7 linked regions of the Homo sapiens genome follow. The protein of the gene in region 5 interacts with the protein of the main gene of each other region in a pairwise test. Each region holds a gene or a part of one and is shown on either strand. Other genes may lie near its edges.

Region 1 (3,500 bases), on a different chromosome or scaffold from region 5:
GAAGAGGGGGTGTTCCTGGGCGGTGGCCTGCAGCCTTCCTTTCACTGAGGCATCCGAGCCCAAGGAGCTGCAGTCTCCCCTTGGGAATATGACATAACCATAGGAGGAAAGGGCCTTGAAAAAACAGACCGGTGTCCACATGTCCTTCGGCACAGGAAGCCCTGTCCCATCCTGTATGCGGGAACTCCAAGATCTGCCAACGCTCTAGCATCACCTCGTCTCCTGCCAGACAAATACCCCAAAGCCAGCGATCTGATAGGATGTGTTTATATTTACACGGTACATTTTAAAGCAATGGCTACATTGGTCATACATATTAGAAACCATAAAAAAAAGTTAAGAACTAAAATGTACATCATACACTTGTATATATATTTTTTACACAGAGGTAAAAAGGCTTATTATAAAAAAATCAATACAACAGGGTTTTTAGTATACAGGTAAAGAATGAATTATGCTTCAGGCACTTTAATTTGTTAATGTGAGCAAATAGCTTGGGGGGTCGGGGAGGCTTCTGGACAGAAAATCTTTTGGTTAATGTTTTGTTACCACAGATACAAAAATAAAATCTGAATAATTTCTCTCAAATGATTGACGTCAGTATGGCAAAGCTGACTGGGAAAATACTACACACTGTTCAGCTGCAGTGTGGCAATTAGAGACGTATTTACATAAATGTCCCCATGGCTGTCTTTGTGCCCTTAACCGATGCCTTCACAAACCAAAAAGTATACGTGGAGTAAGATCTGCTAGCGTAACTCTTAAAAGGGTGGAAAAGGACAAGGGGTGAAAGAAGAGAGAAACAGGTAACAACTAAATAGAGGTGACAAACAAAAAACAGCTGGGATATGTGCGTTCTTATTGAAATAAATAGGGGCACTTGAACTGAGGTCTAAGGAAACGAACATTAGTGTTGTGCTTTGTAGAGAAGAGACCCTAGAGAAAGACCCCAAGGAAGTGCCTCCGGGTCGGGGGAAGGTGGTCTCTCGACAGCACTGGAGGCTGGCTGAAGGTTTTCTAGATGTTCTCCAGGCATGGATGAGGTTCTCTTTTCTTCCATCAATCCAGATGGACAGCTCTCTGCTCCTTTTCCAAACTGGAAAGCCTAAACCAGTTACTCCAATGAATGAAGACGTCTACTAACTGACTCATAAGCACACTGGGTATTTACACCGGTAATCTACTAAAGAAAATCGATGAGCTTGTGGACGAGCTGGAAACAGCCCCATGAAGGTGAGCACAGCTAGCACTTTCCCAATATGATTGGCAGACTGGAAAAAAGTCCCTTTCCTTGAAGACTGGTGTCCTGTGTGCAATAAAGAAGGAGTGGGGAAAGGGAGTGGGGAGCAGGCCATGTCTTCTGCTGGCCGCTACCACAGAAAGATCGTGGCGGGAAGAACAGCCGGCGTCCGCAAGCCTGTCCCCGGTGGTCTCCACGAGGTTCTGATTGTACTATGCTAGGTATAGGTAACCACTCTTCACTTTTCTTCTTTCTTCAATAAGAAGATTTGGCTAATCCTTGCAACGTATTAGAAAAATACTCTTTTCCAGCTAATTAGAAGCCTCCTCCGTGGCAAGGCGACAGGCAGAACCAGTTGGCTGACCTAACCACCTGTGCACCCAAAGTGGCGAGTCTGGGTTTGGAGTTGCAGGAGAAAGACACTTAGGCATTGGAAGGGTTTTTACATATGGCCTTGTTTTTTCCCCAAGTATAAATGAGGAATTTGGTGATGTGAAATTGAGTCCAAAATGAAACGAAAACATAAACCCATGAAGAAAATGCAACCCACCACTCTTCAAATTTATGACATTTAAAAATCCCCTCTCCCCATTAATATAAAATAGCCAGGGGTTGGGGGGAAGAAGCTCCCTATGGTTTTATTCACCATAACCTTAGTGTTTCTCAACTGGAACTTGTTCGTGGGAACACTGATTTGTGTTTGAGGAAACTATTTGGTTTGCAAAACAACAAGCAAAATTTCTTACTTCACTAGTATCCTATTCTAATATTGCTAAATTTTTAGAAGTGGTGGCAACACAATTTAAAAAATGTTCTACTTTAGGGGTAATGGGGAGGCTCATAGAAACCTGAAATCCCCATTCTAGCCCTGGTCCAAGAGGATGCAATGCAGTTGAAGGAATTTTCCTGATTCTCACAAGTTAATCTGAAGTTAAGGCTCAATTCTCAGTCTATTACGGGTGAATGTTTTGCATCAGTGAATCATTTCAACAGATTTTGGGGGGGCAGAAAATGATGATGGGCTAAAGATAGAAACTGCAGCTTACATGGGAAATTTGGCTTTAGAAAAGTTAAAGCGATATTGTTTTGTGGTACAAGTTTGTTAACTAGCTCACCTCCTATACATAATAACTGACTGCAGGCTGAGATACTTCTGTCGGGTTTCATCATTCTCACATCCCATTTCCGCTGAACCAGATGCTTGCTAGCGACAGGCAAGGTGAACCAAGAGAAAGAGAGTCTTCGACGCTCTTGGAAAAATCAACTACAAAACCCACCGAAAATCAGCAGTTCCAATTGCAGACTCCTTTGAACTGGAAGAGGCGGGGGAGGAGGAAACAGGAAATCAACACATGGATGAGACAGTTAGCTTGGTTACAGATTGTTAATAGTACAGGAGTCTGTGGCGAAGGTTCCTTCCTCAGAACACTGTGCGAGCGTGTGTGTATGGATGTGGCTGCTGCAGTGTGGGCGGCAGGGGGAGTGGAGAGTCTACCCGGCAGCGTCCCTGGCTGGAATGGTGCCTCGAGGTACCAGGGAGCTGGGAGGCCGCTTGCCCTCCTCGCTCCTTGGAGTGGAAGGGAGCGGGGGAGAAGATGAGAGTATGTAAGAGACGAGTTCCCCTGTGGCTGCGGATGGAGGGAGAAGGGAGGGAAACTGAGTCACGCGGCCGCTTTGTGCTTCCCGCCACAGCACCTGCACATCACTCCGCAGTGGTAGCAGGCCCGAAGGGGCAGGTAACAGCACATACAGGGGGCCAGGAAAGACAAGGCAATAAGAGCCATCCACCGGAGGCAAAACTTCTCGTCGCTAGTATCGCACGAGCAAGGGTCTGTATAGTCTCCCTCGGGGTCCGACATACAGTGATAGAGCATGCTGTCCGCGCACCACATGCAGCTCACCCGGCGGATGCAAGTTCTCACGGAGTCGGGCGCGTCCTGGCAGTGGCCCCGGCGGTTCTCCTCGTGGTTGAACATGTCCCTGCAGTACACGCACCGCGAGCGCTCTCCGTCCTCCTTCCGCCGCCGCGACTTGCCCCGGGAGGGCTGCGTCTTGATCACGCTGCCCCCGCGGCCTTTGGGGTCCTCGCCTAGGCCAAAGTCTGAGGAGTCCACGTAGGGGTAGTTGTAGTCATGCTTGGGGACCTCGCCCTTGGCGAAGCGCACGTAGGAGGAGTCCGCGTCCTCCGAGGGGTCCGGGTACTTGCCCCTGACGGGTGCGTGCCGGTAATCCTCGTACCCCGTCATCCAGATCTTCTCCC
Region 2 (3,500 bases), on a different chromosome or scaffold from region 5:
TAAAAAGTCCTACCATGGAAAATTAATCCCTTTCGCAGAAGAACAAGATGTCAGTGGAATTCCAGAGTCTTGCCCTATATAAGCCTTCTTTGTTGTTCTAGCATGTCTCTTACTGCCTAGAATTCTTCATCTACAATGTTTGCAAATGTTAATGTATAGAAACTTTAGCATTTCTGTGGGCTTTAATATAAAATATCAAAAGAACCTTAGATCACCAAGTCATTTCATAGAATAAAAAAAATTGGCAGTTCATTTTTGCCCCTTGCGGTTCTCCCATTCTTTGCTTTCTGCTGATGCAAGCAAGGCAAATGGGATAAATTTATGACTTTCATTGATGGGAAAATTTACTAATAAAACATTGAGAGACATATCAGAATAGCCCTCATGACATTCATATTCTAGCACAGAAATCAAAGATAAGCAAGATGCACACACACACACACACACACACACACAGAGAGATATAAAACATCTGAAGGTGATAGGAGCTATGCGGAAAATAAGTGAAAAGGACTAAGGTATAATGGAACAATGAATTATAATGTTAAATAGAGTGGTTAGTGATACTACGTTCAAAATATAGTAAGACTGCATGATAGAAGGTAAAGGGGGCAGCTACTTTAGATTGTGTGGTTGGGGAAGAGTTTTCTACAAAGCTAACCTTTAAGCTGACAGCTGGATGCTAAGGAAACAGCCATGTCAACACTTTGGAGAATAATCTTCAAAGGTGCTTAATGAGCAGTGAGCCTGGACTGTTGAATGAACAAAAACCAGCATGTCTGAAGTGCAATGAATAAGAAGTTAGACATACAAGATGAAATCATAGAGGTAGGCATGGCCAGGTCACACCAGCCATGGTAATATTTTCATTCTTCATCTGAGTCTGTATATATGGTGCATCTTGACTGTGGGGTATTAGCCCCCAAATTTTACCTGGATAGCTATTTTATCCCCTGCACCACTCCTCATGCCTATAGGCAGCCATTCCATCATTCCATCAGTCAAACTATCAAGTAAATATTTATTGTGCTAGGCATGATGCTAAGATGGGGATACAGTGTTGGCCAAAGGAGATACTGCCAGCCAGCCCTATCCTCACACAGTATATATTTCAGTGGAGAGTATATAAATGAAATACTTACAAGAATCATTCTGTCTAGGAAGTGAGCAAGCGAGATGTATTACTGACATTTCTAATAGAGGAGTGTTAACTTAGCCTACAGAGTAGGATATACATATATGTATATATACATATGTGTGTAGATATACATATCAATTAATAACTATGCAGAAAATCATCCCTTGATATTTCTATTATATTTTCTACAATATATTTAAACCATCCATTAATATTCTGCTTTATAATTTTCTAAGTCCTTTCATATGCATTACCCCATTTAATATTCATCATAACTGTGATAGAGGCTGGTCAATGATAATTATCTTCATTTTAAAGATGAATAAACTGAAGCTTTGAGAATTTAAATGACTTGAAGTCATGTAGTATGTTAGTAATGTACAGTCCTAGTCTCATTTTTATACTATGTATGCTATCAGAGGTCTGGTCTGAACTAAATACAGTAAAATTCCTTACTCAATACAGCACTAGGCATTTAGTTTGGAGGCAAAAGGAAAATAAAACGTAGCATCCTCATTCTTAATAAATATGAGATCTAGTTAGGGAGATGTTCAGATGAGCATCAGATAATAAATTGTGCAGAAATTCAGTGTGCATATGAAGTTAAGAATAATCAGAACGGTCTGCAATTATTCTATAACCTTGCCTTGACAGAAATTAATTTTTAAACTGGACATATAAATAGATTATGTGACTAGATCTTGATGCTTTTAAATTCTTGAAATTCTCTGGTTTTATTTTTCTTTTCCCATTCTTAAAATCACTGCCAATCAATGAACCTTACCCACCATTTCCTCTTAGTTTATTGCTTATTTAGAAATCTGCAGTTTCTTCATTGTGCAGATCTATCTTAGCTGTGTGCTTTCTCTGTTGAAGACTCTGCCAGACGCTCCAGAAAACTGTACTCAGCATTCTCTTCTAATTGTCTTATTCCCAGCTCCAAGCCTGATGCCAAGATTTCTATTTGAATGACTTCTTCCTAGAATGCTAAATTGTCAATCTTTAGGAAAGCTTCATTCATTTAACCTTCCTCTATTTCTTAGAAAATCAGTAGAGAATTCTACCAGTATGCAACCCTGAATTTGTTGCCCTACTAAATAAACATTCTCTGTTGCCCTCACATGGTAGAGTGAGTTTATTTTTCCAATTTTTGTTTAAAGTCAACAGATGTCTGGCTTTACTAATATTGATGATTTTATATTATGTTTTATTATGAGGCAACACCTGGCATGCCATCACATGAAAATACATTGGATATGTTTAAATGATATCATTGTCTTATTTCAAATTATTACATATCTGATCTCTTTCCCTTTCCACTACACCAGGAAATAATTTCCCTATTAATTGTAAATTGCAAACGATAAACTTTCAAGTGATGGAGATGCAATAAAAAAGTATACAACTTCAATTATATATTTCTGTTTATAAACATGTCTTTTTCTTCATGACTATGAACCGATGCATGGCATGACACCAGCATGACAAACATTGCTATGGAACCATCACTATATGGCAACACGCCAGGTCCTGTGTTAAGTGGTTTTGGTATCCTATTTTATTTTTTAGCTTTGTATCGACCTGTGGATAGATCATTGGTTTGCAATATGAGTTTCCTTTTAAAAAGTCAGTGAAGATCAAAGGTGCATTTTAAAATAGAAGCTGATAAGAAACATCTTTGTAAAAAATGAAAGACACTTACAGGAACCAGGAATTTTTTAATCTCTTCCAATGCATGACTCATACGTGAATAAGCTTCCCCAGGTGGAGCAAACACTTCAATTAATACATGAAGCTCATCACTCAAGTGGGCATATTTGGCTTCCCCACTCTTCCTTAGTTCTTCTTCCTGTGAAAAAGGTTATTTTTAGAAATACAAATCCACTCATTTTACATTGATTTAACATTTACTGAGAATATGACAAAGGTGTATAATTTAAGCAAATTTTCCATAATTTGCTTCCATAATTTTCTCAAAGAAACCCTTTGAGAAATAAAAATCTGCTACAAGCCATTTAAAGATTTTAAAATCATTTTTGAGTGTTTGAATGATTTTAAAAACCGGCATAATTATCATCTACAACAGATTTTAATCAGCTAAATGAAAATGCTAAACCCCTGAAAATAAGTCACAGAATTGCCATTAACACTGTAGTCTACATGACTACATTCTGGAAGGGAAGAATTGTTTTGTGCTTGATGTTCAGCATTTTGCAGATGGTAAGTGAAAGATTATCACTGTGTTCTTTAAGAAAACTAAAACTTTCTAGCCACTTTTTGAGAAGTTAGGAAGGTTACTTGATTGTGATAAAAAGTAGGGTAACTATACAAGTCAAGGCTTATTTCCAAGTCTATGTTCTCA
Region 3 (3,500 bases), on a different chromosome or scaffold from region 5:
CCAATTTGAAGGCTACCTAACCACGACCACACCAGGACCAACGTTTCTGATATTATAGCTCAACCTACCTTCCCACTAGCACAATTACTCCATAATCTTTGAAAGTTCTTTCTACTTGTATATCCTTGTCAACTTCATGAATCTTCTTTAGTTCCTCATTAAAATGTAAGCTCTTCAAAGGTAGTTTATTCTTTTCTGTCTGACCTAAAGAATCCAGGACATTGCTTTGATCTCTGGTTGTCTCAAGGTTAGGCTGTCTAACCTCCTTCCCTCCACAAAACCACTCCCTCTTATGTTTCCTCTGTTGACCAAAGATGTCTTCTTTCAGCTTTCCTCCCCTCCTTTCCTAACCCTCTGCTTGTGAAGAGCATTCCAGGGGGCAAACCACCCTAAGAAGGAAGTGACTTCTGGACGGTGGGCACTATTTATCCCGAGCCCAGCTCACCCGCAGCGGTTTGCAGTTCTCACGAACATAGCGCCCAGCTGATGTGTTCTCATCCCAATCCAGGCGACCCCGGTAAAAATATTTCTGCTTTCTAGAGGGGAAGGGGAGGTTGAGGAATCAGAAGGTCACCCTTGTTACAATTCCCTTATTTCCCCATCTGAAAGTAACTGGGGGGAGAGGAGGTATCAAAGAAAAAAGAAAATGATGTGAAATAGACCAATTCTGTGGAGAGAAAAGGAAAAGAGTTAACTAGTGCCCCCTCAAGGTTCACCTTGTCTTTCGGATCATCCGGGAAGGGATAGGACCCAAGATCCTTTCCATCATGGCTAGATGCTCTCTGTTGTCATGGGTCTGGGAAACAAAAACAGAACTGAGCATGGGACTGAAAAGGGCATGCTAAGGATCAGCTGCCAGGAAGGCAGGCAATGTGGAGAACTGAGTAGGCAGGTCCTCAGCAGAAAACAAAGGAACCAGGTAGAAGAATGCCAGGCAGTCAAGTAAGACATCCCATCACTTACCTGGAAGAGGGTGAATCCCACATAGTATTCAAAGATGATGCAGCCTATACTCCACACATCACAAGGCTGTGACCAGCCCAACTCTGGGTGAGAATGGGAGGGAAAAGGTGTTATGAGGCTTAGGTGGCCCCACCCTCACATCATCTCACACACTTGGACAGCCTTGCCCTCCCTTACCAAGGATGACTTCTGGTGCTCGGTAATGGCGAGTGGAGACAATGGTGCTATGGTGCTCATGGTCAAAGGTGGCACTGCCAAAGTCTACCACCCGCACAGCTGTGCTCTTCACACTGCGCTCATCTCGCTTCTAGGAGCAGAGGAGAAAGAGGATGAACCTCTGCACCCAGACTGAGATTCCACCAGTATTCTCTACATTGCTTCTGAGCCTTAAAAAAGGTACTGTGATCTCCTGCCTGGCCTTACAAGCCCTGGGAAATTCCTGTTTTACAGCTTCCACCACATCCAGCATAATACTTTTAGAAGTAGGGGAGCAAAAGGATTAAGAAATGATTATAGAACAGCGTGCACATCTGTAAGCATCTGAAGACTACACTCAAGTGCCAGATATATAGTTATTCTGAAAACATGTAACATGTAGCAAATGGGTTTTTCTGAAAAAATGTAACATGTAGCAAATGGGTTTTTCTGAAAAAATGTAACATGTAGCAAAGGAGTTTCTCTAAAAATATGTAACATGTAGCAAAGGGGTCAAAGGAGGGAGAGCTTCTTTAGGTCTGAGATCTCCATTATCTCCAGTTAGTCAAAGGAGCCGAGCTTTCCTACCTCACAGAAATACACATCTCAAAAAAGAAGTCCGGGCCAGGCACTGTGGCTCACACCCGTAATCCCAGCATTCTGGGAGCCCGAGACAGGCAGATCACCTGAGGTTAGGGGTTCGAGACCAGCCTGGCCAACATGGCAAAACCCCATCTCTACTAAAAACACAAAAACTAGCCAGGCGTGGTGGCGGGTGCCTGTAATCCCAGCTACTCCAGAGGCTGAGGCAGGAGAATCACTTAAACCTGGGAGGTAGAGGTTGCAGTGAGCCGAGATTATGCCACTGCACATCAGTCTGGGCAACAGAGTGAGACTCTGTCTCAAATAAATAAATAAATAAATAAATAAATAAATAAATAAAGTCCAAACCAAGAACCTTAAAAACTTTCACTCTACTGGAAAGTTATCTGAAGTCCCCTGTACAAGTTATCTCCCAATTTAAGTCTTCTTAAGAGATTTCTCCCTTTCAACCTATTTAGTTTTACCCAGTTGGAGCCAGACAGGGAGAAAATGTGGGAGGACGAAATAAAAGGGAGAAAACAAAGGGCTCGGCAGAAGGCAAAGTGGTGCAGCTGCCTGCCCCCAGTAACCAAGGGCAGACCCTATCCATCTTACCTTCTCTAGGTTGTAGGTGAGCTCATAGTCTGAATTCACAAACAGAATATTTTCAGGCTTGAGGTCTGTATGTGTCAGCTTGTTATCATGGAGGACTGTAGGGGAGAAGGCCAGGTCAGGCTTGGTGCAGGTGGCCAGAGCTAACTGGTATCAGCTGACCCCAGGCCTGGTTACCTAGGGCAAAGCCAGTGAGGAGACAGGTCCAGAATCACTAGGGCTGCTTTCTGCTCTACGTCTAAATGGAATGCCTGGTCTAAGAAGCTCTGCTCTTTCTAATGTAAGATACATATGTAGCTCAACTGATGTAAAAAAAAAAAAGTTTGCTTTGAGTTGTAGTGTGTACACACTTTGACATGTGTCTAGCTGGCATTATGTTAACTCAATTCTGTGAAACTGTATTATTTTGATGACTCCAGAGGAATGATATATTTCTTTGAATTCCCCACCTTGCCCCTTAGCTGAACTACATACTCTGTGTTCCCATCTCCTTTGCTGTGAATGAACATCTCATCCCAGACAAATGTAAGCCTTTACCCTAAGGAGTGTATTTTTGTCTCTTTATGTTTGCTGTCTGACTGATGCTTTCCCAAGAAAGGGAGAAAGGAAAAGGGGAGGGTAATTAAGTGCTTTGATTCCAAAGGCTTTCTCTTCTAGCTGCTGCTAGGCTAGGTGTAGAGTAAGAGCAATCAGTGACGATAAAGACATCAGTCAAGGAGTTAAGTCAGAAGACGTTTCAAGATGACAGTAAATCAAAGAACTGCAGATAACAGACAGCTGACTGTTTAGGGGCTTCACCAGTGCACAACCGACAGAGAGATCCAATGAAGGGAGGGACTGCCCCAGAGTCCACTTCGGCCCACCCCACTCACACTTGACAGCCTGGCACAGCTGGAAGGCCATGTGGCGCACTTGGTGGATGGGGTAGGGCAGGTAGTTGTTGTCTTTGAGGAAATCGAAGGTGCTAAGGCCCAGAAGCTCAAAGGAGATACACATGTGGCCATGGTAGTCAAACCAGTCAAACATCTGGACACAGAGGCTGAGAAGAGAGATGGGGGAAGGGGGGTTGTCTGATGAGCTCCCATCTGCCCATCAGCCATCCAACAAGGAGGTACTTCATAGCTGTTGATTCCACATACTTGTGTAAA
Region 4 (3,500 bases), on a different chromosome or scaffold from region 5:
TCTGTTACTCCGCATGCCTAACTAGGAACTCCCTATACTTTGGCTAATTAGATCACAAGTGGGCATCTGCTTTAAGAACAGCTAATCCCTGGGCTGGGTAGCAGCACATGGAATGGCAAGGCCAAACAGTCCTGCCTAACTTAGATAACATTAACTAACTCAATCAGCTCTCTCTTGAGGTATCTGAACATAAGACAAATAGATGGTAACATGCAGAGCTGACAGAGAGAGGGCTTAAATTGAAGTCAAGATGTAGTAAAGCCATCGATAATTAGAAATCAAAATAAACTGAAGCCAATAGTAAGCAGAAACTGAGATCACCAGACAAGTAATGATGGGCCAGATCAGGGAGGGTCTGGTAGAACATTAAAAGGACTCTGAAGGAGATGGGGAACCTTTGAGGGGCCTGATACAGAGAAAAGACTTGAACTGACTTATGTTTTAAAAGGATCACTATAGCAGATGTACCAAAATGGTTGTATAAGAGGAGAGGCAAAGGTGGAAAGGTGGAGACAGGGGGAAGAAAAAAATATATATATATTTTTTGTAATTTAGATGGATTCTTGCTATGTTGCCCAGTGTAGTCTCAAACTCCTGGGCTCAAGTGATCTTTCTGCCTCAGCCTCCCGTGTAGCTGGGATTATAGGTACATGCCACCATAACTGACTTAAGAAATACATTAAGCGTAAGGCAGAAGGGAGACTGGCAATTCACTCCAGTCGTGTAGGTGGCAAAATAGGGCCAAATTTTGAAGACAGAGCCAAGATGTCAAGACAGAATGGATGTAGTGAAAGAGAAAGAGGAAAATCAAGAATACATCAAAAAGTTTTTGATCTAAACAAACAGGGTCCTCGATCTGCCATCAACTGAGAATGGAAGGCTGCCGTTGAAGCTGATTTGGGGTGTAGATTATGAATTCCATTTTGGATATTCTGGATTCTGAGACATTCCACCTGTACAAATCTATAGATACAGAGAATTTTTATGTTCCTACAGATATGACAAGACCTATGAGCATATGAACTAGAAATTTCAAACTGAACATATTGGTTATGCAGATGGCACATGAAGAGAGTGCTTATTTCCTAATGTTGAACTTTGAGCTCAATGAACTCAAATTTTTAGCTAGTTTTGGAGATAAAGTCATAACTATGGAAAAAAATTAACAGGCTTTGATGCATATAAATCATGCTTTAAGTTTATCTGGTTGATTCAACATACGTCTGAATATCAATGTAGCTCAAGGAGGATGGGATCTAATTGAAAGTATACTCTATTTATACAAAAGATACAGAGACCCTGGAGTTGGAGACGTATATTTGGGTTTCAGAATAATTCTAAAAATCTTAACTCTGTAACCACATTCTGAACAATATTTGAGTTCATCTGGTTTTATGAAAGTTTAATCTCATTCAGGAAACTAGTGAAATCAAAGACTTAATTCTCCAAAGCATGTGTTAAATTTACTCTATCATAAACCTCACCATTATACATAGTCTTATAATAATCTAGCATTAGCATTTTATCAATTTTTAATTATTAAGGTTATAATTTCCATTATTAACAGATTAAATATGTTGTTAAGCAGTGAAAGCTATATAAGTGTATACTGATGAAAATGCACAGTATAACTAACTTCTGGCGATATAGGGATGCAGCTGATCTAACTTAACAACTTTTAAATTTTCTGAACTACAGAAAAAAGATTTTTGTATATCTGATTTATACATATTTTAGAATATTCTTCATACTTCTATAAATCTTAAGAGCAAAATAATGATGCTAAATTATGTTCATTTAAGCAAAATATATGGTTGAATTGATTTACAATATAGACTAACAAAAATACTCATTTCAAGTAACATTTATAATTGAGCAGTTTAGAAAAGACCAAGAAAGGAGACTGGGTACATAGGAACTCCACCACTGAACTAACCAAGGCCCACATTATGACTACAATGCAAGATCAAAGAGAATAAAACAAGAAGTTCTTGCAGGAAGCTCACTATATATAGTACATTCACTTTTTTTATCAATCAAAATAACAAAGTTAGGTTACCTTCAAGTCCAACCAACTCTATCCTAAGTAGATAGTGGGAGAGAAAAAAAGCTTAAGAACAAAAAAATTATTCTTCAGGGACACTGTGAGAACATTTCAGCTCCTACGGATGCAACTGAGTTTTAAATGTAAGATATAAAAAACACAATTTTTTTCCTCAAATCTAATGAATCATGTACTGAGGGCTGTCACATACTACACACCTTACAGCTAAAGGATATCACATTTACGAGGGTTCCCACTTCAAAATCTATGATCTTGTGGGAAACACTCTCTACTTCTGGCATGTGCTATTCTCTTGGCATACTAGCTGCCCCAGCAGCAGAACAGAAAGTGCAGGTATGCCATCAAAATCACTCCCAGTGAACAGTAAGGGTAGCCAGTTATTTAACCTCAGCCTACACAAAGCTAAAATTAAAAAATAAACAGACCAAAACAAACATAAGAACTGAGGAATTAGACAGCAAAAGTGGCCACTGCTATGTATTTCCATACCTCATAGGAAAAGCTGTGAAATTTGATGGTTTACACACAGAACTGTAATAACTCCTTTAATCTAGAGATCAACACCCTAGCTGGGGCCACTATCATGTCTTATGGAAGCTGCTTCTATAACCTTCTAAATTTCATTCTAATTCCTTTACAATCCTTTCTGGCCCCTACTGAACCCTCCAACCTCATTTCAAGACATTATCCCCTTTGTTCACTATATTCTAGCCATAATATAGAGGTATCCTTTCAGTTCCTCAGGCAAGTCAAGCTTGTTTTGGCTTGGAGTCTTGGCACCTGCTGTTCTCCAGATCCAGGGGCTCCTGACAGGACTCTCATCCTTCCTAAATGTTAGCTTCCTCAGAGAGGTTCTTCCTAATCACATTATTTTCAATCACAGGATCTCATCCATTTCCTTCAGTGCAACTTTATCAGATAAAATTTGTCTATTAGCTGTAAACTCCATGAGGGCAGAAACTATGTGTGTTTCATTTTGGGTTTCATTATATACCCAGAGCTTTGTGCAATACCTGGCAGAAAAATGGGCATTTAACAAATACTCATTAAATTACTTATCAGGAAACCTCAACAAGACAGCTGATAATCAAAGATTAAGCAAAAAATACTCTGAGAAAACAAAATAAATATTGTAAAACCCAAGCATCAAAACCCAAGCATCTACATTCAACAATCAGGATGAACTTCTCTTACTTTATATGCAGTTCTAATAAGGCTGGTTGGTTGTTTTGCTTCCAAGAACAGCTGACCAATTACAAAGACAGAAGAAAGCAAACCAAAAAGAACAGCCCACATATGAAATTTAAATGAAAGTGCCATTTAGAGAAGGTTCTCAAACTCCAACATACCTCAGGGCCACTAAGGCATCACTGTGTATCAATCTGATAGCCGCTTTTGATTAAATGATTCCTCTAGTCAATTAGATAATTCTGAG
Region 5 (4,249 bases):
GAGCATGCCACTATGGATGCTGAGCAGCAGGAGGTCAGGGGCCCCGCTTTCACAATGTGCCATCCCAGAAGCCCCACAGCCAGGATCTGGACCTCTCTGACACAACTCCAGGTCACAGAGACCCAGATGTCAGGGATGGAGGGACTTGGGCACCTGCCTTGCTATTAGCTCCAAGGCTGCTGGCTTCATGTCACAGTCTGTACAACAGCTGGTGGCATGAGCAGGGCTAGGACCAGCACTCAGCATGACTTCCTAGAACTCTAGGGACTTAGGGGCTGAGGACTTCCCAGGGTGAAAGACCATACCTGGGACAGCCTGGCCAAACAGGGACAATTGATCACCATGGAATCAGTGGACAGGCCCAAGAATGGATGGGCACATGAGGTCACCCAGGATCAGGCAGGTTCCACTGAAGGAGGCTGCAAAAGATATATCCAATGTCCTAACCCCGGAACTCTCAGAATGTGACCTTATTAGGTCTTTGCAGACATAATTAAGGATCTTGTGATGAGATCACCCTGAATAACCTGGGTGTGCCCTAATTCCAATGACAGGTGTCCTTATGAAGGAGGCAAAGGGAGTTCTGACACGGAGAAGAGTGGTCCATGTGAAGATGGAGGCTGATATTGGAGTGATGCAGCCACACTCCAAGGAACACCCGGAGCCGCCAGAAGCCGGAAGAGGCAAGGAAAGACCCCCACCCAGAGCCGTCAGAGAGCACAGTACTGCTGACACCTTGATTTCAGACTTCTGGCTTCCAGGACTGTGAGAGTAAATTTCTGTTGTTTTAAACTGCCCAGTTTGTGGTAGTGTGTTATAGCAGCCACAGAAACTAATAGAGACTGGTCTAGCACCCTCGACAGAATGTGTGTGTTGTAAGGGGCTCTCCTGATCCCTAGTGATGGGGAGTCAGAGGACTGCTTAGTGTCTGAACAGAGGGTTGGGGAAGCTGGGTTGTCCTGAAGAACCAGCAGTCCCCACTTGGCAGAAAGGGACCCTGAACTTGTGGGAGGTGGGGGCTGAGGGGCACCTGCTAGCCATGTGCTAACAGCATCTTCGGATTGGTCCCCAGATGCCCTGCTCCCAGGGGTGGCTCCTCTGCTGCAACAAGAACCTGCCTCCCAGCACCAGACACAGCAGGTGGGAGCTGTGGACCATGGCCGAGTCTCTTCGTCTCCTTGATCTGCTCCCAGGATGCACTGTCCAACTATCCCACCTGTAGGTGGGTGGCATTCCAGCCATGGACCCATGATCTGAGGCTGAGCACAGCAAACACAATCGAGGCTCTGGGTCCCAGGTCCCAGGAGCCCGTCCTTGATGGTGCATTACAGCTCTCCCAGGCTGTTCTTACAGTGACCTCCCACCTGCCCCAGGTGAGCATGCTTGCACCTGGGTGCTCGCCCAGCCTTTCTAGTTGTCCTTAGGGCTTCTGGTGTTGGGAACAGGATGCAGAGTTACCAATTTAGGGGGACTGAGAGGTTAACGTGGCCAAGGCTGAGCCCTGCAGAACTGCAGAGCAACAGCACACACAGGAAAGCTAGTGAGGTTCAACATCCTCATGGAGGTTGCACACGGCACAATGAGGTCTTATTTGCCCAAGAGAATGTGCAGGGAAGTCGCCAGGCACGGTGGTGCATGCCTGTAATCCCAGCTACTCGGGAGGCTGAGGCTGGAGAATCGCTTGAACCCGGGAGGCGGAGGTTGCAGTGAGCCGAGATCGCGCCACTGCACTCCAGCCTGGGCAACAAGAGCGAAACTCCGTCTCAAAACAACAACAACAACAACAACAACAAAAACAGAATGTGCAGGGAAGTCAACGTTGGTGGCTCTGAGGTGTGGAGGACACAGGCTAGTGCCCAGCTCAGCGTGGCTCCACCTCTCTGAGCCACAGACCAACCTCACCCACACTGACAGTCCCAGGGGACACAGACTCTAGCCCCTATGTCCAATTCTACACTGTGCACGCAATGGGAAGAACAGTGCATCATGCACTGTACAGCAGAAGAAATGTCCTCTGAGTGCAGGCACAGCTCCCTTCTGTGTCTGTCCTCCCGACAGTGCCTCCACCCTCAAGGATTAGCAAGCTTCAACCCTCGCAGGACATCCACTGTGTCAGGGCCAAACGGTGCTGCATCCTGCTCTAATAGTGAGTGAAGGAGGGGACCGCAGACAAGAAGAAATGAACAAGAGACCGTTTAAGAGAGAAAAAGACGTGAAGAACATCAGACAGGGAGCAGCGCGAGGGCGCCAGGGAGGGAGGCAGCGGATTCTTCGGGCCTCTGTGAAGAGGGGGCATGAAACCGGTCTGCAGACAAGGAAAGAGCAAAGTGCAAAGGCCAGGATGCGGGGGCAGAGACGGTAGGGAGGCCGGCGTCGGCCTCGGCTAGCAGGTGGGCTTGACTCCGAGAGCCGCAGGCCGCCAGGATGGGTCCCGGGCCTGGAGCCTCCCCTCGCGGGCTTCAATGACACCCAGCACGGAAACGCGGGGGCCAGAACTACAGAAGCCCGTCCCGCCCGGAACTCAAGGTCGCGAGTGCTGTGTGGCCGGTCCGGACCCGGAGCGCGAGGACCGGAAGTGCGCGGCGTCACGCCTCTGCCCCGGACCCCGCGCGCGGAGGTGGAGAGGGGACTGGGGTGGTGGCCGCGCTATGCGCCGGGAGGTCCCCGCCTCGCAGGCCGAGGTTGCGGGTCCGCGCAGAATGCCACTTACTCTCTGGAGGCGGCCCGCACGGGTCCCTGGTCCCCGCCCCGCATGCAGCGCGGAGCCGTCCTCCCGCCACCTCCGGGCCGCCGCGGCACTGAGGGACCCGGGCCACAGCAAGCGCAGGCGGGAACCCGCGCGGGGACTGCTGGGAAACGTAGTCCCGTCATGTCCCGCTTTGACGCTGCGGAGAAAGCGGTGTAGGGAGAGGCTTGGGCTTCGGTTATCATAGAAACAGAGGCCGGCTACACCTAAAAGGCGGGGCGTGGACCTAAGTCGTCGCCAAAGAAACGGCGTTCTGGACGGGGACGTAGGGTCCCGCCCATTCCTTCTCGTGAAAGCGGGTGACTGGTCATGATTATGATTGATAGCCTCCTCTCCCAATCTGATTTCTAAGAGGTCCCAACCCGGAACCGACTTGCGGTTCGCAGGCTCCCCTCGGGTGGGAGAGTTGGGCTGGGAAGCACCTGGGGAGCTCTGAAGTGTCTTGGTGAGCGCGTTGCGAGTCAGACCGATAACATCAGAATCTGGGACTGGGCCCGAGCATATGCGCGTCAAAACTCCTCAGTTAAGTCTATTTTTTTGTATTTTTTTTGGTTTGCTTTTTTGAGACGGGGTCTCGCTCTGTCGCCCAGGCTAATGCAGTGACACCATCACGGTTCACTGCAGCCTCGACCTCCTGAGCTCAAGCGATCCTCCTACTTCAGCCTCCAGAGTAGCTGTTAACAGGGGCGCGCGCCACCACGCCCGGCTAATTTTCTTTCTTCTCTCCCTCCCCCTCCTTCTCCCCCTCCCTTCCTCCTCCCACTATGTCGCCCAGGCTGGTCTCGAACTCCTGTACTGAAGCGACCCTCCCACCTCACCCTCCCGAATAGCTGGGACTATAGGTGGGAGCCACCATGCCTGGATAGTTTTTTTATTTTTATTTATTTATTTATTTTAGAGATAGGGTCTCCATATGTTGCCCAGACTGGTCTGGAACTCCTGGGCTCAAGCGATCCTCGTGTCTCAGCCTTCCAGAGTGCTGGGAGTACAGGCTTGAGCCACTGCGCCAGGCCCCTAGTCCGGCTCCTAGTTGATTCTAACACGTGCGGCCCCATTGGGGAACCACAGCCTCCCCAGCCCCTTTGGGTGTTGCTGACTCTACGGGCCCTCCCAGGTAGGATGAACTGGTCACGCCTCCTACCCATTTGTAACCCCCAGCTCTTGCCCCCATCTATTGTGTGGCTCCTGCCCTCAATAGGGACATCTAATTTTGTTGGCCAGTCCAGCACATATATTGCATGTAACGACCCAGTTTGCCCCACCTTTCTGCCTCCACTGCATCTGCTTCAGGGATGCTGGGACTGTTCCACTCCCTTTCTCCATCCTTTGGGTGTCTGCACATCGAAAGCCTTGTCAGGAGGTCTATCTCCCTGCCCAAGTACAAAACTCAGGGCTTACCAAGCTAATTGAGGGCGAGCAGGAGGCTGAAGGGCACTTGGAGGGCTGCCCGCCTTGTGGGTCCCTTGGTGGCTGAAGAGAGTTGCACAGGAAGGCCTTGACAAT
Region 6 (3,500 bases), on a different chromosome or scaffold from region 5:
TAATTTCTTTCCAAAAAGAATGACTAGAAGAGTCCTGTAACTTCAATTATTTGCTCCTTAATGTGATCAACTGAGAATTTAAATTGAGCTTCCTAAGAGCTTCATTTTCCTTTCTGCCTCAACGGCAGTAAAAAAAAAAAAAAAAAAAAAAATTAAAGTGGCAAGTTATAAGCAAGAGTATAGGAAGTAAAAAAAAAATTTTATTGAGAAGAATGTTTGCTTTGAAAAAATATTTCTCAAAACAACTTTCTTTGCTATTCTGAAATTTCATTAACATGACAGTATCTAAGGCAAAACCTAAATCATGTTTGTACTGTGATTGATGATACAGGCTTCCAAGGAGGGCAGAGTGACTCTGGGTTGGCAGTGACAAGTTCTGTTCTATTAATACTTGTGGTAGGCAGAATATGATGTCCACATGCCAATTCCCAGAAGCTGTGAACACATGGCAAAAGGAACTTTGCAGATGTGATGAGATTAAGGATTTTGAGATGGGAGAGTACTCTGGATTATCCAAGTGAGTCCAGTGTACTCATAAGAGTCCTTATACATGAAAGAGGGAGACGAGAAGGTAAATGTTAGAGTGATATGATGTGAGAAAGACTCAGCCATCGTTGGCTTTGAAGATGGGGAGGGGGCCATGAGCCAAGGAATGCAGTAGCCTCTGGAGCTAGAAAAGGCAAAGGAGTAGAGTCTTCCCACTGAACCTCCAGAAGGAACGCACCCTGCCAACACCCTGGCTTTAGCCCACTGAAATTTATTTGGGACTTTTTTTCCCACAGAGAGAGGGTCTTGCTTTATTGCTCAGGCTGCAGTGCTCCTGCATCAGCTTCTCAAGTAGCTGGGACTACAGGTGCACACTACTACACCTGCTAATTTTTAAACTTTTTTTTGTGGAGTGTGGTCTTTCTATGTTGACCAGGCTGGTGTCGAACTCCTGGCCTCAAGTGATTCTCCCACCTCGGCCTCCCAAAATGCTGGGATTATAGGCATCAGCTACCAGACGTAGCCTGTTTGGGACTTCTGACCTACAGAACTGTAAAATAATAAATTTGTGTTGTTTTAAGCCATTAAATGTGTGGTATTTTGGAAATTATCTATTAGTGATAGGGCCAACTTTAATAAAAAGAAAAGTTCATAACCCAACAAAATGGGAACTCATACTATTACTATTTAAATCTTATTTATACCCCAGTGTTTCTTCATGCTGTTTGTTTGTTTGTTTGAGATGGAGTCTTGCTCTGTTGCCCAGGCTAGAGTGCAGTGGTGTGATCTTGGCTCACTGCAACCTCCGCCTCCCAGGTTCAAGTGATTCTCCTGCCTCAGCCTCCCAAGTAGCTGGGATTACAGGCACCTGCCACCATGCCCAGCTAATTTTTTTGTATTTTTAGTAGAGACGGGGTTTCACCATCTTGGCCAGGCTGGTCTCAAACTCCTGACCTCATGATCCACCCACCCCAGTCTCCCAAAGTGCTGGGATTACAGGCATGAGCCACCGCACCTGGCATCTTCATGTTTTTATAAAGGCATCTTAGCATCATGCTCAGTTTCCAACATTTTGCTTTCAAAACAGTATCCATTCTCTATACACAATAAGGAATTGGAAGAAAAATATAAAAATAATCCCATTCTGATTTCAAGAGGGATGTTGAAGGATGGGGATGAACCCTGAGCTACCACGAGCTACCACGTATTTTTGTAAATCTGAAACCATGTTTCTTAAATCACTCTCATGTTGTTCTAATTTGTGTTTGTTCAACTTTGAGGGGAAGTTTCAGAAGAGGAAGTTTTACAACATAGATTACAAAATATTTAGCCAGATAACAGCTGGTGCCATGGTACAGGCATGGGCTTATCCACAGACTCCCGATCATTTTGGAGTTGTAACATTTTATCAAAATACGATGCTAAATTTTATTATTTCCATAAGGTAAGGTATAATTTCTTTTTGGTTATGATAAATTAAGACTAACTGTTTTGACAATTTTTGAGAGTTTCATGACCTCCTAAAATAACCAGAAGCATCTCTGTTCTTCCTGGAACACTCCTTTCCCAAAGATCCACTGCCTTACTCTCCCCTTCATTCTGGTGCTCAGGCCAAGGTGGGAGGACTGCTTGAGGTCAGGAGTTTGAGACCAGCCTGGGTAACATAGTGAGACCTTGTCTCTAGAATTTTTTTTTTTTTTTTTTTTTTTTTTTGAGACTGAGTCTTGCTCTGTCGCCAGGCTGGAGCGCAGTGGTGCGATCTCGGCTCACTGCAACTTCCGCCTCCCAGGTTCACGTGATTCTCCTGCCTCAGCCTCCTGAGTAGCTGGGATTACAGGTGCACGCCACCATGCCTGGCTAATTTTTGTATTTTTAGTACAGATGGGGTTTCACCATGTTGGTCAGGCTGGTCTGAAACTCCTGACCTCATGATCCACCCGCCTCAGCCTCCCAAAGTGCTGGGATTACAGGCGTGAGCCACAGCACCTGGCCGAAAAAATTTCTTTTAAATTAGCCGGATATGGTGGAACATGCCTGTAGTCTCAGCTACTCAGGAGACTGAGGCAAGAGGATTGCTTAAGCCCAGGACTTTGAGGTTGCAGTGAGCTGTGATCATGCTACTGCACTCCACCTTAGTGACACAGTGAGACTGTCTCTTTTTAAAAAAGAAAAAGGCCAGGCACGGTGGCTCATGCCTGTAATCCCAGCATTTTGGGAGGCTGAGGTGGGCGGATCACTTGAGGTCAGGAGTTTGAAACCAACCTGGCCAACGTGGTGAAACCCCATCTCTACTAAAAATACAAAAAAAAAAAAAAATTAGCCAGGCATGGGGGCGGGCACCTGTAATCCCAGCTACTCAGGAGGCTGAGGCAGTAGAATACCTTGAACCCAGGAGGCGGAGGTTGCAGTGAGCCGAGATTGTGACACTGCACTCTAGCCTGGGCGACAAGAGTGAGACTCCACCTCATAATAAATAAATAAAAATAAAAAATAAAAAGAAAAGTAAAAAGAAAAAAAATGTCACCTCCTTACAGAAGCCTTCCTAACCCTGGCCTGAAATACTAGCACCCCATTCCCCATAATCACTCACTATCCCTTCACTTACCACTGCCCAATGTTACACATCTGTTGATTTGCAGGGTTTTGGTTTTTTTTCTTTTTTTTTTTTTGAGACAAAGTCTTGCTCTGTTGCCCAGGCTGGAGTGCAGTGGTACAATTTTGGCTCCACCTCCCGGGTTCAAGCAATTCTTGTGCCTCGGCCTCCCGAGTAGCTGGGACTACAAGCACGTGCCACCACACCCAGCTAATTTTTATACTTTTAGTAGAGATGGGGTTTTGCCATGTTGGCCAGGCTGGTCTCAAGCTCCTGACCTCAAGTGATCCATCCGCCTCAGCCTCCCAAAGTGCTGGGATTACAGGCATGAGCCACTGTACCCGGCCTGCAGGTTTATTTTCTATCTCCTCTATTAGAATGTGAAATCCATGACATTAGGGCCTTTGTCTATTTTGTTTAC
Region 7 (4,146 bases), about 13 Mb from region 5:
CGAGGTCTCAAAGGATCTGACCTGGAGCCTCTGCTCTTGAAACACCCTGCTCTGCCTCTCCAGGTCTTTCCCCTTCCTGCTCTGGACTGGATATCACGCAATAGCCAGGGGGCATTCTGACTGTGCCCGGGTCCCAAACTAACCACCTATCCCTGGGGCCTAGAGCCCAAGGACTTGGCTGGCTCCTAGTGCCAAAACTCTTTTTTTTTTTTTTTTTTTTAAGACCGGGTCTCTGTCACCCAAGCTGGAGTTCAGTGGCGCAATCACAGTTCACTGCACTATCGACCTCCTGGGCTCAAATGATCCTCCCACTTCAGCCTCCTGAGTTGCTGGGACTACAGGCGTGCACCACCACACCTGGCTAATTTTCGTATATTTTGCAGAGACGCGGTTTCACCTTGTTGCCCAAGCTGGTCTTGAACTCCTGGGCTCAGGTGATCTGCCCACCTTGGCCTGACAAAGTGCTGGGGTTGCAGGCATGAACCATGGCGTCCGGCCCAAAAGTCTTAATTTAACCACTGCCTCTTTAAGAATAACTAGCCAGCCGGGCACGGTGGCTCATGCCGGTAATCCCAGCACTTTGGAAGGCTTAAGTGGGCAGATCACCTGAGGTCGGGAGTTCGAGACCAGCCTGGCCAACATGGTGAAACCCCCAACTCTACTAAAAATACAAACATTTTTAGCCAGGTGTGATGACAGGTGCCTGTAATCCCAGATACTGAGGAGGCTGAGGCAGGAGAATTGGCCTGGGCGACAGAGGGAGACTCCGTCTAAAAAATTATAATAAGTAGCCAAACTGTCATTCATGATGGACTCCCTGTGTGTTCAGTTTCCAGTTACCATGTTTCCCACCCTCACATCAAAGCCACCAATTCCTCCATTGTCCACAGACTGGCAATAGTTTCTCCCCTTGCCCAGGGCCGGCAGATCAGCTTCTACAGAACCACGGCCACCACAGCCAGTCTGATCCCTCACTTCATGGGCTCCACCCCAGGAGAACTGACAGACTTCTCCAGCACAAAATGGACTCAACACTGCCCTGCATGTCCCAAGCGACTTTCCACTTTCCCAGCCCTATGGCTCCAACACACTCCTTTCAGCTCCAACACTGACCTGACCCTCTCCAGTGCGCTGGCCCTCTCTCCCAACACTTCAAGTAGCCAACTTTTTCATCTCTCTCACCTGCTACTGGCCAGCAACTCCAATTTCTGACTTGATAACATCCCCCAATTCTTTTTTTTTTTTTCTTTGAGCCGGAGTTTTGCTCTTGTCACCCAGGCTGGAGTACAATGTCGTGATCTTAGCTCACTGCAACCTCCACCTCCCGGGTTCAAACGATTCTCCCTGCCTCAGCCTCTTGAGTAGATGGGATTACAGGTGTGCACCACTATGCCCGGCCAATTTCTGTATTTTTAGTAGAGACGGGGTTTCCCCATGTTGGCCAGGCTGGTTTTAAACTCCTGACCTCAGGTGATCCACCCACCTTGGCCTCCCAAAGTGCTGGGATTACACGCCTGAGCCAATGCACCCGGCCATCCCCCAATTCTTTCTCAGGAAGGAACAAGAGGACCCTTCCGTAGCCATGTCCCAAACATCCTCTGCTCCTGAATGACTGACAGCCTTCCTTCTGCTTCTCTTTTTTTTGGAGGAGGAGGCGGCGGTAGGCGTTGGCTTTTCTTCTTAATACCACATTGCAGCAGGCGGCGGTGGCTCACACCTGTAATCCCAACACTCTGGGAGGCCAAGGAGGGAGGACAGCTTGAACCCAGAAGTCCGAGACCAGCCTGGGCAATGTAGTGAGACCTTGTCTCAATAAAAAAGAAAACATAAAAACCACACTGCCTCTTTCTCCCTCACCCAACCACAAATTGACCACCACCTCTGCTCCTCTTCTGGGACCTTATCTTGACTCCTTTTTACCAAGTCCTCTATAGCCACAGTCCAAGTTTATAGTCTCCCTCTTTCCAGCCAAGAAAGTGGCCAACACGACCACTCCTTGCCCCAAGGCTTGCAGACCAGCAACTTAACCTCTTTTTACCCCCATAGACCCATCAAACTCTTTCAACTGCCCTTTCAGGCCCAGTGTTGACCCGCTCCTCCTCTCAACTGCTCCTTCTCTCCTTCTCTGGTGGAACTACGAACGCAAAGGCTGCCACACTCTACATCTGACAAAACACCAAACTTTCTTTAATTGCTCATCGTTTTAAACCCTAAAACGATCACCATCTTTGTCTCGGGTGGGTGGGGTGCGGCAGAAACCAGATACTTTTCACCTTCCCAACTCCATAGCCACCCCCTTTCTAACAGACTACGGTTCTAAACTGACGACTGTCCCCTTATTCACCATTAGGTGCAATCTATTGAACGCCACCTCGAGCCGGGCCCTGCACCGATCCCTCCCGACTCCCGGGTCCCTCTCGAGCCCGCCCCCGCTTCACCCGCGGTAGCTACCATGTCTCCAGGGGTCTTTGGGCTCCACTGCTCCAGACACGATATCCTCGTCGGACGGGAATGTGACGCGCTTGGCTGCAGCCTTGAGGCGCCCATCGGCGGGGGGCGACGCGGGGCTGGGAGACCCGGCCTCAGCTGGGGCCTCTTCAATGTCGCCGTCCGCGCCCGGCACGGGCGGCGCCTCCTGCGGCGCGATCTCCATAGCCGCCGCCGCCTCCTCACGGGGGCCCCGGGGACATGCCCCGGGCCCCGGATTTGTCTCTCCGGGTCCGCCCGCCGTCCCGGGGCATGGGCTCCGCCGCCGCTTCAGGCGCCGCCTCCGTCCGCTCTCCTAGTGGTCGTAGTCGTCGCCGCCGGGAGCCCAAGCGCGCCTCCGCCGAGCCCCGCGCGCGCCTGCCCGTTCGCAGTCACACTTTCGCTCGAGGCTGGCGAGCCCGCCGCTTACTATAAGAAGCAGAAAATCGATTTCAGCGACTTGCACGTAGAGTTGTCCCGCGGGTGACATGAAGAGAGAAACAAAGGGCAGGAAGGGCCACGGAAAAAAGAAACGTGAGCAGCGAATCTGCAGAGCCGGAACTGCAGACTATGAGGGGCGGGGCGAAGTAGACGCCGTCTCCAAGAGCAGCGCGCAAGCGCGAAGCTGAGCCCACGCCTTCCTGCCGGAGTCCAAATAACGAATATTCAGCTCCCGCACATTCGTCAAGAGCCCAGGGAATGGAGTGCATAGAACTGAAAACACCTGGCGGGGCGCGGCGGCACACGCCTATAATCCCAGCACTTTGGAAGGCTGAGGCGGGAAGATCGCTTGAGTCCAGGAGTTCGAGACCAGCCTGGGCAACATAGCAAGGCCCCGTCTTTACAAAAAATTTAAAAATTAGCAGGGTCTGGTTACAGGAGCCTGTAGTTCCAGCTACTTGGGAGGTGGGAAGATCGCTTGAGCCCGGTAGGTTGAGGCTGCACTGAGCTATGATCGCGCCCCTGCACTCCGACCTGGTAGACAGAGCCAGACCCTGTCTCAACGAAAGGAAAGAAATGGGCCGGGCGCGGTGGCTCACGCCTGTAATCCCAGCACTTTGGAAGGCCGACACGGGCGGATCACGAGGTTAGGAGATCGAGACCATCCTGGCTAACACGGTGAAACCCCGTCTCTACTAAAAATACAAAAAATTAGCCGGGCGTGGTGGCGGGCGCCTGTAGTCCCAGCTACTCGGGAGCCTGAGGCACGAGAATGGTGTGAACCCGGGAGGCGGAGCTTTTAGTGAGCCGAGATCGTGCCACTGCACTCCAGCCTGGGCGACAGAGCAAGACTCCGTTCCCCCCCCCCCAAAAAAAACAAAGGAAATAAATGAAAACATTGAGGCTAGACTAACTGATGAAGAGTGGTAACGGCATGAAGAAGTCGAAAAGAAAGGCGGATAGGAGCTGCATTCAATATATGAGTGCAGTTGATGGATGCTGACAGGGATACTCTGGAGACGAAGTCTCGGCCCCTTCGCTAGTCTCTAGTCCTCCATTTGCTCGCTGCAGTTACATCAACAGCTCTCTGTATCGGGGTAGAGTTGCATAAAATACAACTTAAATTACAATGCTAAAATAAATATGAGCCCATGAGCGGTATCATAGGCCTGATTTTAAAAAACAAAACCTAGGAGAAGGTAGAAATTCCAAAGGCGAGAGACGAATCTGCCAACCTAA

The links.
Region 1: the proteins of ZNF837 (region 5) and SPRED2 interact in binary tests that used the Homo sapiens proteins (3 or more experiments, as listed by UniProt).
Region 2: the proteins of ZNF837 (region 5) and KHDRBS2 interact in binary tests that used the Homo sapiens proteins (3 or more experiments, as listed by UniProt).
Region 3: the proteins of ZNF837 (region 5) and CLK2 interact in binary tests that used the Homo sapiens proteins (3 or more experiments, as listed by UniProt).
Region 4: the proteins of ZNF837 (region 5) and CHIC2 interact in binary tests that used the Homo sapiens proteins (3 or more experiments, as listed by UniProt).
Region 6: the proteins of ZNF837 (region 5) and CCDC125 interact in binary tests that used the Homo sapiens proteins (3 or more experiments, as listed by UniProt).
Region 7: the proteins of ZNF837 (region 5) and PPP1R37 interact in binary tests that used the Homo sapiens proteins (3 or more experiments, as listed by UniProt).

What each region holds. Positions count from the first base shown.
Region 1 is NC_000002.12:65,310,600-65,314,099, forward strand, and holds the end of SPRED2 (sprouty-related, EVH1 domain-containing protein 2), read right to left. Parts: coding exon 2,902-3,500; 3' UTR 252-2,901; downstream 1-251. UniProt on the Homo sapiens protein: Negatively regulates Ras signaling pathways and downstream activation of MAP kinases. Recruits and translocates NF1 to the cell membrane, thereby enabling NF1-dependent hydrolysis of active GTP-bound Ras to inactive GDP-bound Ras.
Region 2 is NC_000006.12:61,975,226-61,978,725, forward strand, and holds part of KHDRBS2 (KH domain-containing, RNA-binding, signal transduction-associated protein 2), read right to left. Parts: intron 2,988-3,500; coding exon 2,841-2,987; intron 1-2,840. UniProt on the Homo sapiens protein: RNA-binding protein that plays a role in the regulation of alternative splicing and influences mRNA splice site selection and exon inclusion. Binds both poly(A) and poly(U) homopolymers. Phosphorylation by PTK6 inhibits its RNA-binding ability.
Region 3 is NC_000001.11:155,263,505-155,267,004, forward strand, and holds part of CLK2 (dual specificity protein kinase CLK2), read right to left. Parts: intron 3,392-3,500; coding exon 3,225-3,391; intron 2,451-3,224; coding exon 2,356-2,450; intron 1,271-2,355; coding exon 1,141-1,270; intron 1,047-1,140; coding exon 964-1,046; intron 797-963; coding exon 717-796; intron 537-716; coding exon 446-536; intron 205-445; coding exon of another isoform or gene 175-204; exon of another isoform or gene 152-174; intron 1-151. UniProt on the Homo sapiens protein: Dual specificity kinase acting on both serine/threonine and tyrosine-containing substrates. Phosphorylates serine- and arginine-rich (SR) proteins of the spliceosomal complex.
Region 4 is NC_000004.12:54,054,606-54,058,105, forward strand, and holds part of CHIC2 (cysteine-rich hydrophobic domain-containing protein 2), read right to left. Parts: intron 1-3,500.
Region 5 is NC_000019.10:58,378,231-58,382,479, forward strand, and holds the start of ZNF837 (zinc finger protein 837), read right to left. Parts: upstream 2,801-4,249; 5' UTR 2,711-2,800; intron 796-2,710; exon of another isoform or gene 555-795; intron 1-554. UniProt on the Homo sapiens protein: May be involved in transcriptional regulation.
Region 6 is NC_000005.10:69,315,802-69,319,301, forward strand, and holds part of CCDC125 (coiled-coil domain-containing protein 125), read right to left. Parts: intron 1-3,500. UniProt on the Homo sapiens protein: May be involved in the regulation of cell migration.
Region 7 is NC_000019.10:45,091,833-45,095,978, reverse strand, and holds the start of PPP1R37 (protein phosphatase 1 regulatory subunit 37), read right to left. Parts: upstream 2,801-4,146; 5' UTR 2,654-2,800; coding exon 2,452-2,653; intron 1-2,451. UniProt on the Homo sapiens protein: Inhibits phosphatase activity of protein phosphatase 1 (PP1) complexes.